2 separate regions of the Homo sapiens genome follow, and region 1 is linked to region 2. Evidence: fine-mapped expression QTL. Tissue or cell type: monocytes after R848. Region 2 holds a variant in brackets; the other region holds the start of a gene. All regions are shown on one strand. Distances are from middle to middle.

The links. PIP is the estimated chance that this variant, and not a neighbour inherited with it, causes the effect.
Region 1: it holds the start of ATP10B, and the variant in region 2 is fine-mapped to the expression of ATP10B in monocytes after R848 (Quach 2016, PIP 0.95).

Annotation. Positions count from the first base shown.
Region 1 is chr5:160,847,727-160,855,834 of GRCh38, forward strand. ATP10B (ATPase phospholipid transporting 10B (putative)) reads right to left here and starts at 4,485. Exons shown (of 26, transcript NM_025153.3): 1 at 4,215-4,485.
Region 2 is chr5:160,480,788-160,488,895 of GRCh38, forward strand. It overlaps MIR3142HG (MIR3142 host gene), which reads left to right. Exons shown (of 2, transcript NR_132748.1): 2 at 4,512-6,639. MIR146A (microRNA 146a) reads left to right here and starts at 4,565; the gene lies at 4,565-4,663. The variant T/C (reference allele first, on the strand shown) is at 3,790.

The DNA.
Region 1 (8,108 bases), 370 kb after region 2:
TGCTATAAATGAATGCATCAGCAATTCAGAAGGAAAAACGCGGGTTATTAAGTAGGAACAAGTCTCTCTGAATATATTTACACCAGCTCATGGAAACCATTGTCCTCAGAAACCTCTGCAAAAATCTATTTTCTAGTGTCGGTATTGCTTTAAGTTTGACAGATGATGGTAAAATACAATGAAATTACCTTTGAGCTCTGATATGTATATCAGCGCCCACATCTCTCACAATTTGATTTTTTATTTTTCCAACACAGCCATCTATTTTCAATATTATCCCTGCACACTCCAGGTTTATGCCTGGGGAAAATAACTATTTATGCCTAAGTCATACTTATATGCAGAATTTACACTATATGTAAACATACACACATACAATACACATGTGTAAATACATATTAGTTAAGAGCTGGAAGGAACCTTTCAGATCTTCAAGTCTTTACTGTCACATTACAAATGAAGAATCTGAAGCCCCAACAGAAATGCTATTGAGAAGGCCACACAGAAACCTGACTTCAAAGTGAGATTTGAGAGAATAAGGATGTAGCAAGTTCCTACTATGTTCTGAGGGTTACAGGAGGCATATTCCATTCATAAGTTCTTATACCATTTCTATGATGTTGGTATCACTCCCATTTGATAGATGAGAAAATTGAGGCTTACAAAAGTAGCACAGCTAAGAAAATAGCACAGCTAATAAATGGCACAAATGAAATTAAAGCACTGATGTAACTAGGTTCTTTCTAGCATACCAGCATTTCTCTAAATACATTCACTGCCATATCACTGACATAATTTTGCTAATCCACGTGCCAACTGTATTTTAACTTTTTTGATTAATTAATGTAAACATTTATAAAGGAAAAGTTTATCACCATTTAAATAGCATGCCATAAAGAGAAGAAAACTATTGCTGAGTTTTAGCTGGACCCTGCTGCTACCTAAAGACATCAAAATTGCATCCAGCTCTCTTTGTTGAAATGGGAGATTAGCAATGGGTAGAGAGGTATTAAAGGTCTAGTCATACCAAAATGAGACTTAATGATGGAAAGAGAGTTGAGAGGGAAAACTTTTACTATGTGATCTAGCTATTTGATATAATACGTGAGTATCACCTAAAGTCATCTTTGTCCTACCTAAGATCATTTTTGGTTCTATCATGGTACCTGTTCTTCACTTTGAGAAACACTGCAGTACATATAGTAACTGGGCATGTTCTCCAGGTCATGGTTCTGGAACTCCATCAGAATCACCTGAAGGCCTATTTAAAACAGATTTCTGAGTGATCCCGAGTTTCTGACTCAGCATGTCTGCGGCAGGGCCTGAGGTTTTGCCCTTCTAATAGTTCCCGAGTAATTCTGATACAGCCGGCCCAGGAAGCATATTTGGGAACCACTGCTCTAGGTTGTACTTGGGGAGGAGGAGGTAGAGAACATACGGTAGCATGTGTGTGAAGATTTCACCATCAATCTTGCTTGTGAGTGGAGGGATCTGGAATTTTTAATTAAGCAGATGAGGCAAAGAAACAATGTATTCTTGTGTTCCTGTGTCACTTCTTCAACTTAATGAGTTCAGATTGATACTGCACCATACCAGAGCGACCTGCAAAAACTTTATCTAAGAGACAAAAGTACCTCCTCTCAAATAATACAAGTTGTTTTCAGGCTGCTAACTATCTGCAAGGCTCCCTGCATTGGCAACAGCAGCCAGTGATCACTAATAACGAAAGCAGAAAATGAGATTCTCCTTCTTTTCTCCAGACGTTTAAGACAGTACTTAATAAACAAAAAATGCCATATCCATTAATATTCTTTCTCATCTGGTTCTCTTAGTAGTAACTAGCAATTATTAAGTGCCTTCTGTGGGCCAATTATTGAATTGTACTGGCAATTACACACACACACACACACACACACTCTTTTAATGTGAGCATTTGACAGGCGCAGTAACTTGCCAAGGTTACACAATTATAGGAAGCAGAACTGTAATTCATATGCAAGTTTTATTCCAAAGCCCGTTTTTTTTCTACTAAACAATACCCACTCCTATTCTGACTACCCAACTTCATCTCTTAATAAAAGGGTATTTTATAAAAAATGAAAAGAAGAAAAGGCTCCAGAAACTTAAACTTTGTAGTTAAAAGAATTGTAAAACAATGTCACCAGAAAATGAGAAATCAGTGACATTTAATCAGCAGAAAAGCTAGAACTCCCTAGGTTCAAAGCAAAATTTAAGAATGCCTGGCTAAGTTTTACTTTAAGGAGAGTGGGTAAATGGGTAGAATCAGTCTCAGGAATCCAACGAGTTTTAGTTTACTTTTGAGTCACAAAAGAAATTTTCATTCCCTTCTGACATGGCAGAAGCTGTTTGAAGAATGAAAGTGGTAGTAGAAGCAACACTGGGCCAGGTGCGGTGCTTACGCTTGTAATCCCAGCACTTTGGGAGGCTGTGGGCGGATCACCTGAGGTCAGGAGTTCGAGACCAGCCTGGCCAACATGGTGAAACTCCGTCTCTACTAAAAAACAAAAAACAAAAAACAAAACAAAAATTAGCCAGGCATGGTGGTGCATGCCTGTAATCCTAGCTACTTGGGAGGCTGAGATGGGAGAATTGCTTGAATCCAGGAGGCAGAGGTTGCATTGAGCTGAGATTGCGCCACTGCACGCCAGCCTGGGTGACAGAGCAAGACTCCATCTCAAAACAAAACAAAATAAACAAGAAGAAGCAACACTGGATTGAGAGCTCTGAGCCTTGGACTCTGGTGTCCTTTTCTCTCAGTAATTCAGACTTCATTTCTCTAGGTCCTAGTTTTATCATCTGTAAACTAGGCAGCTAGACTAAGTTCCATTCCATTCCTCAGAGCTCCGTTCCTTTGAAAGGCAGCCTCCTTCACTGGACTTATCAGTATCACATGCTTCAAAAGATAAGGCTCATCGTTTAGCACGAGAGGAGTATGATTTAACTGTAAAAAGTCAGCATGTGGGTTTCAACCTTCAGTTTCTCAAGAGCCTATTAATCCACCCATATGTGATGTTATACTGCTATACTCTTTAAAAAATACATGATGAAAACCTGAGGAGAGATCCTGAACCCTTAAATCCATATAATTAGGCTGTAAGAAATGAATTTTCCAAGAATTTTTTAAAAAGTCATCAATGGATGAAATGACAAACTCAGTGGGTGTTATTAAGAGTAATTATAGTAACATCTAGACAGAAAACAACATCTGTGATCTGCCTGATTAATGGCTTAATGTAACTGTATGTCTGTTAATGGAATAATACTCCAAGCAGTCTTGACTGTACATTTGCAAGATCTGGAAACAGAGAAGAAACTGTGGAAGAAGGAAGTAGCAGAGTGCCAGATTGGCTTTGGGAGGTCAAGCTCCTCTCTACAGTTTTCAAATTCTCCTCTGCCTACCTGGCAAATTCAGAGAAAATTGCCTGGCAAATTCAGAGAAAAACCAAGTTCCACCAGACACAGGCATGCACTCCTGTAGGCAAAATAACTAGCAGCTCAGTATAATTTTTATTTTTAACATTACTTTTCACCTTAGGGTTAGGGATAGTGTCACTCCAGCCTTAATAGCAGGCCACAGGACTGTCCTAAATGTATTCATCACAGACCTGCATGCATGGGGCTTTTTTATTTTTTTTCTGGAAGGAGTAACTCATACTTAGGGAAAAAACACATTTTTCTTTAAGCAACAGTTTTCTCCTTTGAACTCAAAGGAAAGTCAAGCTTCCCACCTATAGTTGAAAACTACTGCAATATGGCAGCTTCAGAGTTTATCAAGATGAAATTGGGAAGCCATGTAATGATCTCATTCTCTTCCTCAAAGCTATAGTTTCTTTCTGCTTTGAGAAGAAGGCTGTAACTCCATCTGCTTCCTCAGGCTGCACTGGATGAATGCAGGATAGCAGGATATATTATTTATCATAAAATGTATTCAGGCACATTCAGACTGCAAGCCCTGTTGAGTGAGGAAGTAGCATTTGCCATCAGCTTATCATAATGAAATCAATTGACGAAAAATAAAACATTCTGTTAGAAAAGAAATGTGGATCTCGCACCCAGAAAGCCAAATGAAATTTCAAATGCAGTGTAAAGAAAAGTAGTCATATCCTGGGCCTAATTCAGAACTTAGACTTGATGATTCTAAGAGGCAATTACTCCCCCATTATATAGGTTAAGGCCAGGATGCTTTTACTTACCCCAGCAAAGCTGACGTCCCTATTGAGCAGACTCCAGTAGAAGAAAACAGTGCTTGAAAGTGGCGGTATTTCTCTCGCACACCTTGGCTAAAATAGTTCTCTTTCCTATGGAATTTTTCATTTTTCTGATTATATCTGATTATGTCAAGGCAAGGCCTCAAGCTAACACTCCCTCAGAAACTTAGAGAAGATGACACACTGAAAAGAAATAACTGTGACCAATGAAAGAAAAAGGAAAAATAAGCTGCCTCGCTAGGCCCAAGAGTGAAAGAGAAGAATAGCAAGTCTGTGAATGTGAGGCCGAGTCCCAGAACAGTGAAGGCAGTGTTCTTCGACTTGGCTGAACATTTACATTGTTAGACATGGTTCTTGCATAAATTTCTACTTCCTGTGAATCAATGAGCCAGCAATATCAAAATTCATGGTGATTTTTATTCTCTACGCATGGTACAAAATGACTTTGTCCATCTACCTTTGGTAATGCATGTAATTAAGTGTGAGACAATTATAACCTTGCAGTTCTCTTTGGGGGGCCTGAAATATGATTCAGCTGCTGGGTTTCAAGGGCACTTAAGAAAGAAAAGACTCTCTACAGTGACTTTTATATGCATGCTGATGATGAATTTGCCCTCAAAGCTTCAGAAGTCTCATTTTGCAGTAGTCATAGTTTTTATTGATTACTGTTTGATTATACAAAATAAGGAAAGTGGGACCAATATATTATAGTGGCAGATTATGTGAATGGTGCAAACTTACAGAAAATCAGAATTAGTAATGGGCTTATTGATAGCTTCGATTCATACCCTAAAATGAGATTTTCATGTATAATCCTTTTATTAAGTTACCTACAACTCAACTAATTGGCATAAATGTCATGAGCAAGTTGCTGTATTGATGGATAATTATTGATGGGTCCATAAATAAAAGAGAAGGTAGAATGAGCAGTAAGTTGATTTTAAGGGTAGTAAAAAAAAGAAATATTACCAAACTTAGGAATAAAAGGTGTTGGAAAGAAGTGAACATACTAACTTCATGAAAATCTTTACATAAGATTTTGGTTGGTTGGTAGAGTAATTGTGAACTTTGTATGTACCTACAGATCTTATCAGAATACCAAGAAGAAACATGGACATAGGAAACATTTTACAAGAGAAGAAACACCCACACCATCTAAAATCTGCATCGCTGTGTGTGTAAGACACAAGCTAGGAATTTTTAAGAACATGAAATTTGCCTATGCTTTAGACAGTCTAGAATTTTTAAAAGAGCGAGTTGGCATTTCAAAATTCTCCATCTGCTAAAGAGAAGAATGCTTAAGTCCCTGTTCCTTTACTTCCCTTCACTCAGAGTGCTCTGGCTTCTAGGGACGAGTGTGGTCTAGAATCACAGATACGGTTAAATTGCAGAATATTGCACTAGTGGGTAACTGGAGGTTATTTAGTGAAGCCCCCTTGTGCCATGGAGGAGAATGCTGAAGCTCAGAGAAGTGAATACAATTGCTCAAAGCCAAACAGGAATTTGGTGGTGAACATGGGACCTCAAACCACATTGTCTTTCTCCTAAGACTAGTATATTTTCCATCACTGGTCTTTCTCCTAAGACCAGCTCTTTCCCATTATCACTTTCCTGGTAAAGAGAGAGGCACATGCAATTTAGGAACAAATGTGTCTGTAGCATCCCTTGGGTTTTCATGCTAACCAATGAATAGAGAGTCCTCAAATATGTTCATTTTCCAAACTGCCTGGAAATCGTAAATACTAACAGACATATGGCAAATTATTTATAAAATGTGTTGAAATTAAGTGACACTGTCTGGCTAATTAGAACCCTAATAAACAAATAATAGATAAGAAATGCTATGTTCAGTTTTTATTAGAGGGACTATCTTTCTTTTGTTTGGCTGCTGGAATTTTGTAATAAATCATATTTTAAAAATCACACTCACAGAGTTTTACTTATAGTTCCTATTTCCAGCAGGCAATCTTTCTACACTAAGGCAATTTAGCATTTTTGTATGTATTTGCATTTCTTATTGACCACATCATGCTTTTCATTCCTGATTTTTACACAGTGTGTCATGTCTAGCTTTTGTATTCTTGCTGCCCAAACTAGTCAATTAAAGAAGCAATGGTAGACAGAGGCTTTTGCTCCCATCCCCGACACCAGTACCACACAACCAGGATGGATTTCATAATCTTAAGACTATCTTCTACAAGCTGTGCAAGTGTTATTAGTGGTAATTTTTATTTTTTATTATACTTTAAAGTTCTGGGATACACATGCAGAACATGCAGGTTACATAGGTATACACGTGCCATGGTGGTTTGCTGCACCCATCAACCCGTCACCTACATTTGGCATTTCTCCTAATGCTATCCCTTCCCCTAGCCCCCCAACCCCTGACAGGCCCCAGTGTGTGATGTTTCTTCCCTGTGTCCATGTGTTCTCATTGTTCAACTCCCACTTATGAGAACATGTGGTGTTTGGTTTTCTGTTCCTGTGTTAGTTTGCTAAAAATGATGGCTTCCAGCTTCATCCATGTCCCTGCAAAGGACATGAACTCATCCTTTTTTATGGCTGCATAGTATTCCATGGTGTGTATGTGCTACATTTTCTTTATCCAGTCTATCATTGATGGGCATTTAGGTTGGTTCCAAGTCTTTGCTATTGTGAACAGTGCTGTAATAAACATACCTGTGCATGTGTCTTTATAGTAGAATGACTTATAGGGTATATACCCAGTAATGGGATTGCTGGGTCAAATTGTATTTATGGTTCTAGATCCTTGAAGAATCTCCGCACTGTCTTCTACAATGGTTGAACTAATTTACACTCCCTATTGGTGCTAATTTTTACTGAGTACTTTGTGCCAGCACCATGTTAAGTGCTCTACATACTTTGACTCATTTAATTCCCTCAAAAACTTTAATAGATTGACGCAATTATTCTTATTCTACGAGAGAGAAAATGTAGGAAAAGGAATAAAATAACTGTGCTTTCACATAACTAGGAAGTATCTGGGACTCAAACTACAGATTGTTTAACCATTCACCTTTGAAGGACATCTGAGTTATTTCCAGCTCTGTTATAAAGTTGCTATAAACATTTGTGCACAGGTTTTGTGTGAATAGAAGTATTTTTCTAGAATAAATGCACAGACAGAAGTTTAATTCCTGGATTGTATGGTATGTTTAGTATTTTAATAAATGCTTGTTTAGTATTTTAATCCTAGATGTATTTGCACGTTTAGTATTTTAAGAAACTGCGATATTCTTCCAGAGTGACTATACCATTTTACTTTCTTACCAGAAATGTGTGAGGGCCCTAGTTTCTCCGCATCCTCACCAGCATTTGGTGTTGTCACTACTCTTTAGTTATTTCAATAGGTGTATAGCAATATCTCATTTTGGTTTTAATTTGCATTTTCCTAATGGATAATGATGTTGAGTATCTTTTTATGTGCTTATTTCTCAGTTATATATTTTGTTTGGTGAAATATTTCTTAATGTCTTTTGCTTATGTTTTAATTAATTTTTGTTTGTTTTTTTTTTAGTTTTGAGTGTTCTTTATATACTATACCTTTGTCGGATATGTGGTTGGGAAATGTTTTCTTTCAATCCATAACTTATCTTTTTATCCCCTTCACAGGGTATTACACAGATCAAAAGGTTTATTTACATCAATTTTTAAAGCAATATTGAATCAATTTTCCTTTTCACTCTTTGCATACTTCTAAATCTTAAATATTTATCCTATTTCTCTAAAAATTTTATAATTTTATGAATTACATTTAAGTCTATGATCCATTTTGAGTTAAATTTTGTGTAAACTGTAATGTTAAGATCAAGGTTTCCTTGTGTGTTTATTTGGATTTTCAATTGTACTAGAACCACT
Region 2 (8,108 bases):
GGGCCACCTGCCATCATTTTCTGACCAGGCTGATTTAGCTATTTGACCTTCGGCCTCAATTATAACTCATGTTCAAACAGTGGTTTCTCATAGATTAGTTTACTTTGCTCCTTCCAATACCTGATTGGTGAGAGAGGACCATTTCTGAGGAGGTCTCTGATGTGTAGAGAGGTTATATGACCTGCCTAGTTCCCATAGCTGGTAGGAGACAAGCTAGGGCTAAAACCCAGTTTTAACTTCTATCACCTTTTTTTTTTTTTTTTTTTTTGAGACAGTCTCACTTTGTTACCCAGGCTGGAGTGCAGTGGCACGATCTCAGCTCACTACAACCTCCACCTCCCAGGTTCAAGCATTCCTCCTGCCTCAGCCTCCTGAGTAGCTGGGACTACAAGTGCGTGCCATCATGCTCAGCTAATTTTTGTATTTTTAGTAGAGATGGGGTTTCACCATGTTGGCCAGGCTGGTCTCAAACTCCTGACCTTATGATCCCCTCACCTCTGCCACCCAAAGTGCTGGGAGTACAGACATGAGCCACCGTGCCCAGCCTATCACCTTGTTTTTATTATCTCATCATGTTGTCATCTTAATGTTTTTAACTTTTCAGTTTCCCCATCTTTAAAATAAGGAAATTAAACTGTGTGGTTTGTAAAAGTAAGTTCCCTCCCTCCCTTCCCTTCTCTCCCTCCCTCCCTTCCCTCTCTCCCTCCCTCCCTTCCTTTTCTCCCTCCCTCCTGTTCCTGGACCAAACTGAGGGTCAGGCTGCTGTTTCTCACAGCCCAATAACGAGATGCAGATGAACTGGGAAGGAAGAGAGTTTTTATTTCTGTAACCAGTTACAGGGAGAAGGCCCAGAAATTATCACTAGACCAACTCAAAATTACAAAGTTTTCTAAGCTATATGTCTACATGTAAGTGTGCGTTCATCTAAAGACATTAGTGATTAATTTCTTTTAATCTGTAACTAAGGTCTGAGTCCTGAAGACCTTCCTCTAGAGCCTCAGTAAATTTACTTAATCTAAATGGGTCCAGGTGCTGGGGTGATTACTTATCTTGTCCCCTGCTAAATCATGGAGGTTTGGGGAGTTCCTTTAGGCCCCCAATAAACCTGTTTGTGGAGGCCTGGGGAGTTTCTTCAGACCCCCATTAAAACTTGTTTAATCCTAAATGGGTCCTGTTAAGAATTCCTTCGTTATTTTGTCATGCTTTAGTGTCCAGGCAAAACTCTTGGTGGGCTTTTGTTGCATTCCAGACTTTGTATAAGGGCACTGGCTCAATCAACTTTTAATGTTTAACCTAGCTGTCAGTCAGTGCTGGGACAGTTGTGATGGAAGCCTGCATAACTGAGACCTAGCCTCCCTCCCTTCCTCCCCTCCCCGCCTCCCTCCCTCCCTTTCTTCCTTCCTTCCATCCTTCCATCCATCCATCACTGGAGTGCCTACTATGATCAAGACATCATGCTAGAAGCTGGAAATAATGTTACACAAAACACATGCACACACCCCATTAAGAAAGTTAAAAAGCCACCCAAAGAATGGGAGAAAATATTTGCAAATTATACATGTGGGACTTGTATCTAGAATATATACAGAACCCTTACAACTCAATAATAAAAATACAAACAACTCAATTACAAAATTGACAAAAAAATCTGAATAGACATTTCTCCAAAGAAGCTATATAAATGGCCAGTAAGCACATGAAGAGATACTCAACATCATTAGCCATCAGGGAAATGCAAATCAAAACCGTAGTGAGATACCACTTCACACCTACTAGGATAACTATACTCAAAAGATAGACATTAACAAGTATTGGCAAGATGTGGAGAAACTGGAACCCTCATACACTGCTGGTGGAATTGTAAAATAGTGTGGCCGCTTTGGAAAACAGTCTGGCCATTCATCAACTGATAGCCATAGAGTTAACATATGACACAGAAATTCCACACTTAGGTATACGTCTGTGAAAGGAAAATAGATCTCAGAACTCCCAAAATCACTAAGCCAAAGGGAAGTCAAACTGGGAACTGTGTGAGGCAAACCTGCCTCCCATTTTATTCCTACGTAAGCTAGCTACAAAGATAAAAAAGCTACATACCTCCCTCACAATTTGCCCACTAGGAAATTCCTTGTGGACAAAGGACAGACAGAATTCAGTCATTCTTTTGCTCATGTGAGACCAATGCATATCTGATTGCTTCTTCTGCCCTATTATTTCACTAAGCCAGACTAAGGAATAAGTGACTATTCCTCTACCCTCCTCTCACATGTAAATTGTGTATTCAGTAAAAGGCTAACCAGAGACAAAAAAATGCAACAGTTTGTCTTGTATCTACCTATGATCTGGAAGCCCCCACCCCTGCTTCTAGTTGTCCCAGCTCTCCAGACTGAACCAATGTACATCTTACATATACTGATTGATGTCTCATGTTTCCCTATAATGTATAAAACCAAGCTGTGCCCCGACCACCTTGGGCACAATGTTGTCAGGACCTTCTGAGGCTGTGTGACAGGCATGTTCTTAACCTTGGCAAAATAAACTTCCTAAATGGATTCAGGTCTGTCTCAGATACTTTTGGGTTCACACATCCATGAGAAATGCAAACATATGTCCATACAAAACTTGTACATGGGTATTCATTCATAGAAGCATCAAATAGGCAAAAGGTAGCAACAACCCAAATGCCCATCAGCTGATGAATGGATAAATGAAATGTGGTAGATCCTAACGATGGAATATTATTCATCCATAGGAAGGATGTACTGATACGCATTAAAACATGGATATATCCTGAAAGCTAAGTGAAAGAAGCCAGTCACAAAAGGCCGCTGATTATATGATTTCATTTATATAAGATGTCCAGCATATATATAGACAGAACGTAGATCAGTGATTCCCCAGGGGTGAGGGAGGGGAATGGAGATTGACTGTTAATGGTTATGGGATCTATTTTGGGGATGATGAAAATGTTCTGGAATTGATTATGATGGTTGTACAACTCTGCAAAATACTAAAAACCAATGCATTTTTTACTTTAAATAGGTAAATTTTCTGGTGTGTGAGCTATATAGCTATAGCTCAATAAGGCTATTATATACTTATTTTATTTTATTATTATTTTTTAGAGACAGAGTCTCGCTTTGTCACCCAGCCTGGAGTGCAGTTGTGCAATCTTAGCTCACTGCAACCTCTGCCTCCTGGGTTCAAGTGATTCTTCTGCCTCAGCCTCCCAAGTAGCTGGGACTACAGGTGTGCGCCACCATGCCTGGCGAATTTTTGTATTTTTGTTAGAGACGGGGTTTCACCATGTTAGCCAAGTGAAACTTGAACTCCTGACCTCAGGTGATCTGCCTGCCTCAGCCTCCCAAAGTTCCGAGATTACAGGTGTGAGTCACCACATCTCGCCTATATACATATTTAAAAAACACTAGCATGGTCTCTATGCTTATGGAAAACAGTCTTGTTGGAGAGATAATTTTAATCAAATAATTATACAAAATTATCTAACAATTACAAATTACGGTGAAGGAAAGAATCCCATATTATGAAAGAGACTAGCTGGAGGCTGATGGTGAGGGAGTGGTAGGTAAACATTCAAGTGCTCTTACAGAGATCCCCAAGTAACAGTGGCTTAAATAAGGTAAATGTTCCATTCTTGCTGATCTATCAGTGCAGGTGTAAGCAGTCTAGGGTGTATAAGGAAGCCTCACACTTTTGGGGCTCTTCTGGCATGCTGCTCTGCTGTTCCCTGGGGGGCTGCACTCATTTGCATGGTCCACAGTGGCTCTC[T/C]ACCATGTCTACAGTCCAAGCCTGAGAAGAGGGAGGGAAACAGTAAAAAACTCTCCACTCCTGCTCATATCCAGCACTTTGTCACACCAGGTGAGGAAACAAAGTCAGATGTCCATGTGTTCAGATACCACTTAAGGGTTCTATTAGTATAGAAGGAGGAGAGAATATATATTGGGCAAACAATCAGCAATCTCTGCCATAGATGGCCTCTCTGAGGAAGTGACATTGAAAGCAAGAACATCAGGATAAGTTGATGTTAAAGAGAGGAACGAGTTTTCCAGGCCAGAGGGATGGCATATGGAAGGGTCATGAGGCAGGAAAGGCCAGCTACCATGTTTAATGATGCTTAATGATGTGTGTGTCTACCATACACATCCCCTACAGATTAGTTTTTGTTTTGACAGGGTCTCTCTCTGTGGCCCAGACTGGAGTGCAGTGGTGCAATCATAGCTCACTGCAACCTCCAATTCCCAGGCTCAAGCGATCCTCCCACCACAGGCCATCATGCATGGCTCATTTTTTATTTTTAGTAGAGACAAATTCTCCATGTTGCCCAGGCTAGTCCTGAACTCCTGGGCTCAAGAGATCCACCCACATCAGCCTTCCAGACTGCTGGCCTGGTCTCCTCCAGATGTTTATAACTCATGAGTGCCAGGACTAGACCTGGTACTAGGAAGCAGCTGCATTGGATTTACCAGGCTTTTCACTCTTGTATTTTACAGGGCTGGGACAGGCCTGGACTGCAAGGAGGGGTCTTTGCACCATCTCTGAAAAGCCGATGTGTATCCTCAGCTTTGAGAACTGAATTCCATGGGTTGTGTCAGTGTCAGACCTCTGAAATTCAGTTCTTCAGCTGGGATATCTCTGTCATCGTGGGCTTGAGGACCTGGAGAGAGTAGATCCTGAAGAACTTTTTCAGTCTGCTGAAGAGCTTGGAAGACTGGAGACAGAAGGCAGAGTCTCAGGCTCTGAAGGTATAAGGAGTGTGAGTTCCTGTGAGAAACACTCATTTGATTGTGAAAAGACTTGAATTCTATGCTAAGCAGGGTTCCAAGTAGCTAAATGAATGATCTCAGCAAGTCTCTCTTGCTGCTGCTGCTACTCGTTTACATTTATTGATTACTTACGATGATTCAGGTACTGTTGTAAGTGCTTTACATGCTGTTATACGAGACTCTTGGGAGAAATCACTTTAATGAAGCTTGAGACACATGGCATTGCCATGCAATGATTTTTCCCCCCTCTTCACGGGATCAGAGGGAACTAATAGAATGTGACAATGATTCTTTAGCAGGGACTGCTGAGGCTTCTGGTTCCTTTTTAAGATCTGCAGTGAAAGAAGATGAGAAACATGGATATGCCCTTCTTTTGGTCCCCCTCTTCCTTTATTTGATCTCTACTTCCTTCTATAAATATATTAGGGCTACATTGTCCCTTTGTATTTCAAACAAGGCAAAAAGAGGTTGTAATTACACTTTACTGCAATCCTCAGTTTCTCCAGGGAACAGGAATGCAAAGGCTTTGAAGGCCTCTCTATTTGCTGACATGGTCAGCTGGGTGCCATGGGCCAAGTCCTTCTGTTGCCCTCCTCTGTCACCAAGTAAGCTAGGTCCTTTCTGAGGCTCAGGTTTGCTGTGATGATGATCACTTTTAGGCAGAAGGTTAGAGGCCTCATGAGTGCTATATGGACTTTATTAGGCTTTAGATTTGATGGGGAATAAGGGATGTGATTTGTCTTTTGGGAACTCATCTTTGATTCATCATTGTCTCTTGGTATCTTGGAATTTCCATGTCATTACAGTCTACAGAATGAAAGAGTAACCTGTCCCAGAGGAGAGGCAGGTGAAAGACTCCACAGCATGCTCATTCTCATTCTGTCTTCTCAGTGACACCGAGGTTTACTGAGTGCCCACTATGTGCCAAGCACTGTGCTCAGGGCTTTCTTTGTATGCATGATCTCAGTGAATCTCACCAAGCCTCATCTGGAAAACGGGGACAAATTAACAACAGGATGGCAAATTGAAAAACACGTAACCATGTTCTACAGATGGAAAGGGGTGCTTGGTTATTATGAAGGCCCCCTCGCAAGCGTGTGGGACATGGGTGTGTTCTCTGGGTTGTACTGATCAGATCAAGGACCTCCCCCACCCTTCTCACACTCTGCCCACTTCCGCCCTTTGCTTATCAGACCCTTAGCCAGTGACTCATTCCAGAACCAGAACCTTGGTGAAATCTCAACCGACACCAGAGATCGGTGTCTTCAGTCCTAGACTGATGGAGAAAATCCAGAATATATACTAGAAGCTCCAAATGCTCTGGGTTTCAGCTCCTCTGTGCTGTGGACACTGACTTTGGCTCAGAACTCCGATTTAGTACAAAAGGCTCATTTTTATTTCAGGGGCACTCTTCCTAAAGCAAACCTAATAAATGAAATATGGAATTCACAGATACACACACACATTAAAAAATTAACCTAGTGTATCTGTGAGGAGTAGGCAGAAATTCACTGTATAAAAGAATGCTTCATTTCATAGAGAATTTGTGTTAAGATTCCATTAGATAGTACATTTCTCAAAGATTTTTGAGGTTGTATTTGCTTTACCAAAACTTGGTTTATGTAAGTGGAAAAAGCATGTTGCAAAATAACTTGGTGTCTATGATTCAGTTTATGTAAAATAATAAATGTATGTAGGAATACGTGTGTTGAAAGATGTACATCAATTTGCTAACAATGGTTATCTCTGACGTGGTGGGATTTGAGATGTGTTTTTCTTTTTGGTTGTATTTTTCTCTATTGTTTGACTTAACACAGAACATGTTTGGTTACAACAATAAAGTTATTGAAGACAATATAACACCCAATTGTGATGAGTCCAGACAGTACTCATGCTGTGCATTTATTAGACAGTATGCCATAGAGGTGGGTCATGGAGGAGTGGAGAGAGAGCCCTGATTTGTTGTCCCATGAAGAAGATAGGCACAGGGTAATATGTAGTGTGATTCTTTTTTTTTTTGCACGAGGAGAAGTGTGTGTGTATCCGTGTAAGTGTATGGATATCCAGTGGGTAGTGGGTGTTAAGATTGCAAGTGATTTTTTTCCCCTCTCCCTTAATCATGCTTTTCTGCCTAAATAAAAAAAGAACTCTCTCCAAAAATCCATCCATGTGTGCCAGTGGTTTTTAAATGTGTTTCTTGGAGCAGCAGCATCAGTATCACCTGTGACTTTTTTTTTTTTTTTTTTGAGTCACTCTGTCACCCAGGCTGGAGTGCAGTGGCATGATCTTGGCTCACTGCAACCTCCGCCTCCTGGGTTCAAGCAATTCTCTTGCCTCAGCCTCCCAAGTAGCTGGGATTACAGGCGCCTGCTACCATGCCTGGGTAATTTTTATATTTTTAGTAGAGACGGGATTTCACCATGTTGGCCAAGCTGGTCTTAAACTCCTGACTGCAGGTGATTCGCCCACCTTGGCCTCCCAAAGTGTTGGGATTACAGGCATGAGCCACCACGCTTGGCCTGGGAATGACTTTTGGATTAGCTAACCAACCTGTGAACTTTTTAGAAATGTAAATTTTCAGGCCCCACTCAAGACCTCCTGAATAGAAAACTCTAGGGGTAGGGCCCAGCAATTTCTGTTTTACCAACCCTTTGGCTGACTTTTATGCACACTAAAGTTTTAGTACTGATAGGGTCAATCAAGGGACATCTGCATTCCCCTGGAACTGAAATATAGCTGACATTGACATGAAAGATGCTGGCCCACTCCTACAAGTATGCATGCAAGTATTCCGCAAAACTTATTTCTGAGAGATGAACAGCAGGACCCCAAAACTTCAAGATGGTTACAAGTGATATTTCCACCGGTGAATAGTAGATTTCTAGGTTTTTAATGTGCAAACTTTAGGTGCATAAAACCGCTTGAAGAAGTTGTCAATTAAGGCAGGTCATGCCCCTGACCCACAGACTAGGCATTTCCAAAGTATCTGTCATTTTAACCATCACTCACTGAATGTCATCAAGGAGGTCCTAGGACGACACTTAGAGCAACTATTCCAGGCTTTTTCAAATGCTGTTTTCCCCCTCCGTACTATTATGTTTCTTCTTCCCAATTCATCCTTTCTCTTCCTGTTGTGATTGATGGGGTCTCAGAAGCAGATTAGCCATCCTTTCGGCTCTGTGCTTGGGAGAGAATAGCTCACATGCTGCTAGAGAGGTGCCTTGGGAGTAATAATAATGATAATGGAAGTATTGATTTGCCATCCTCTGATAACAAAGGAAGGTCATGATTTATCAGCTCACATTAATGGGATGAGGTGGAAAG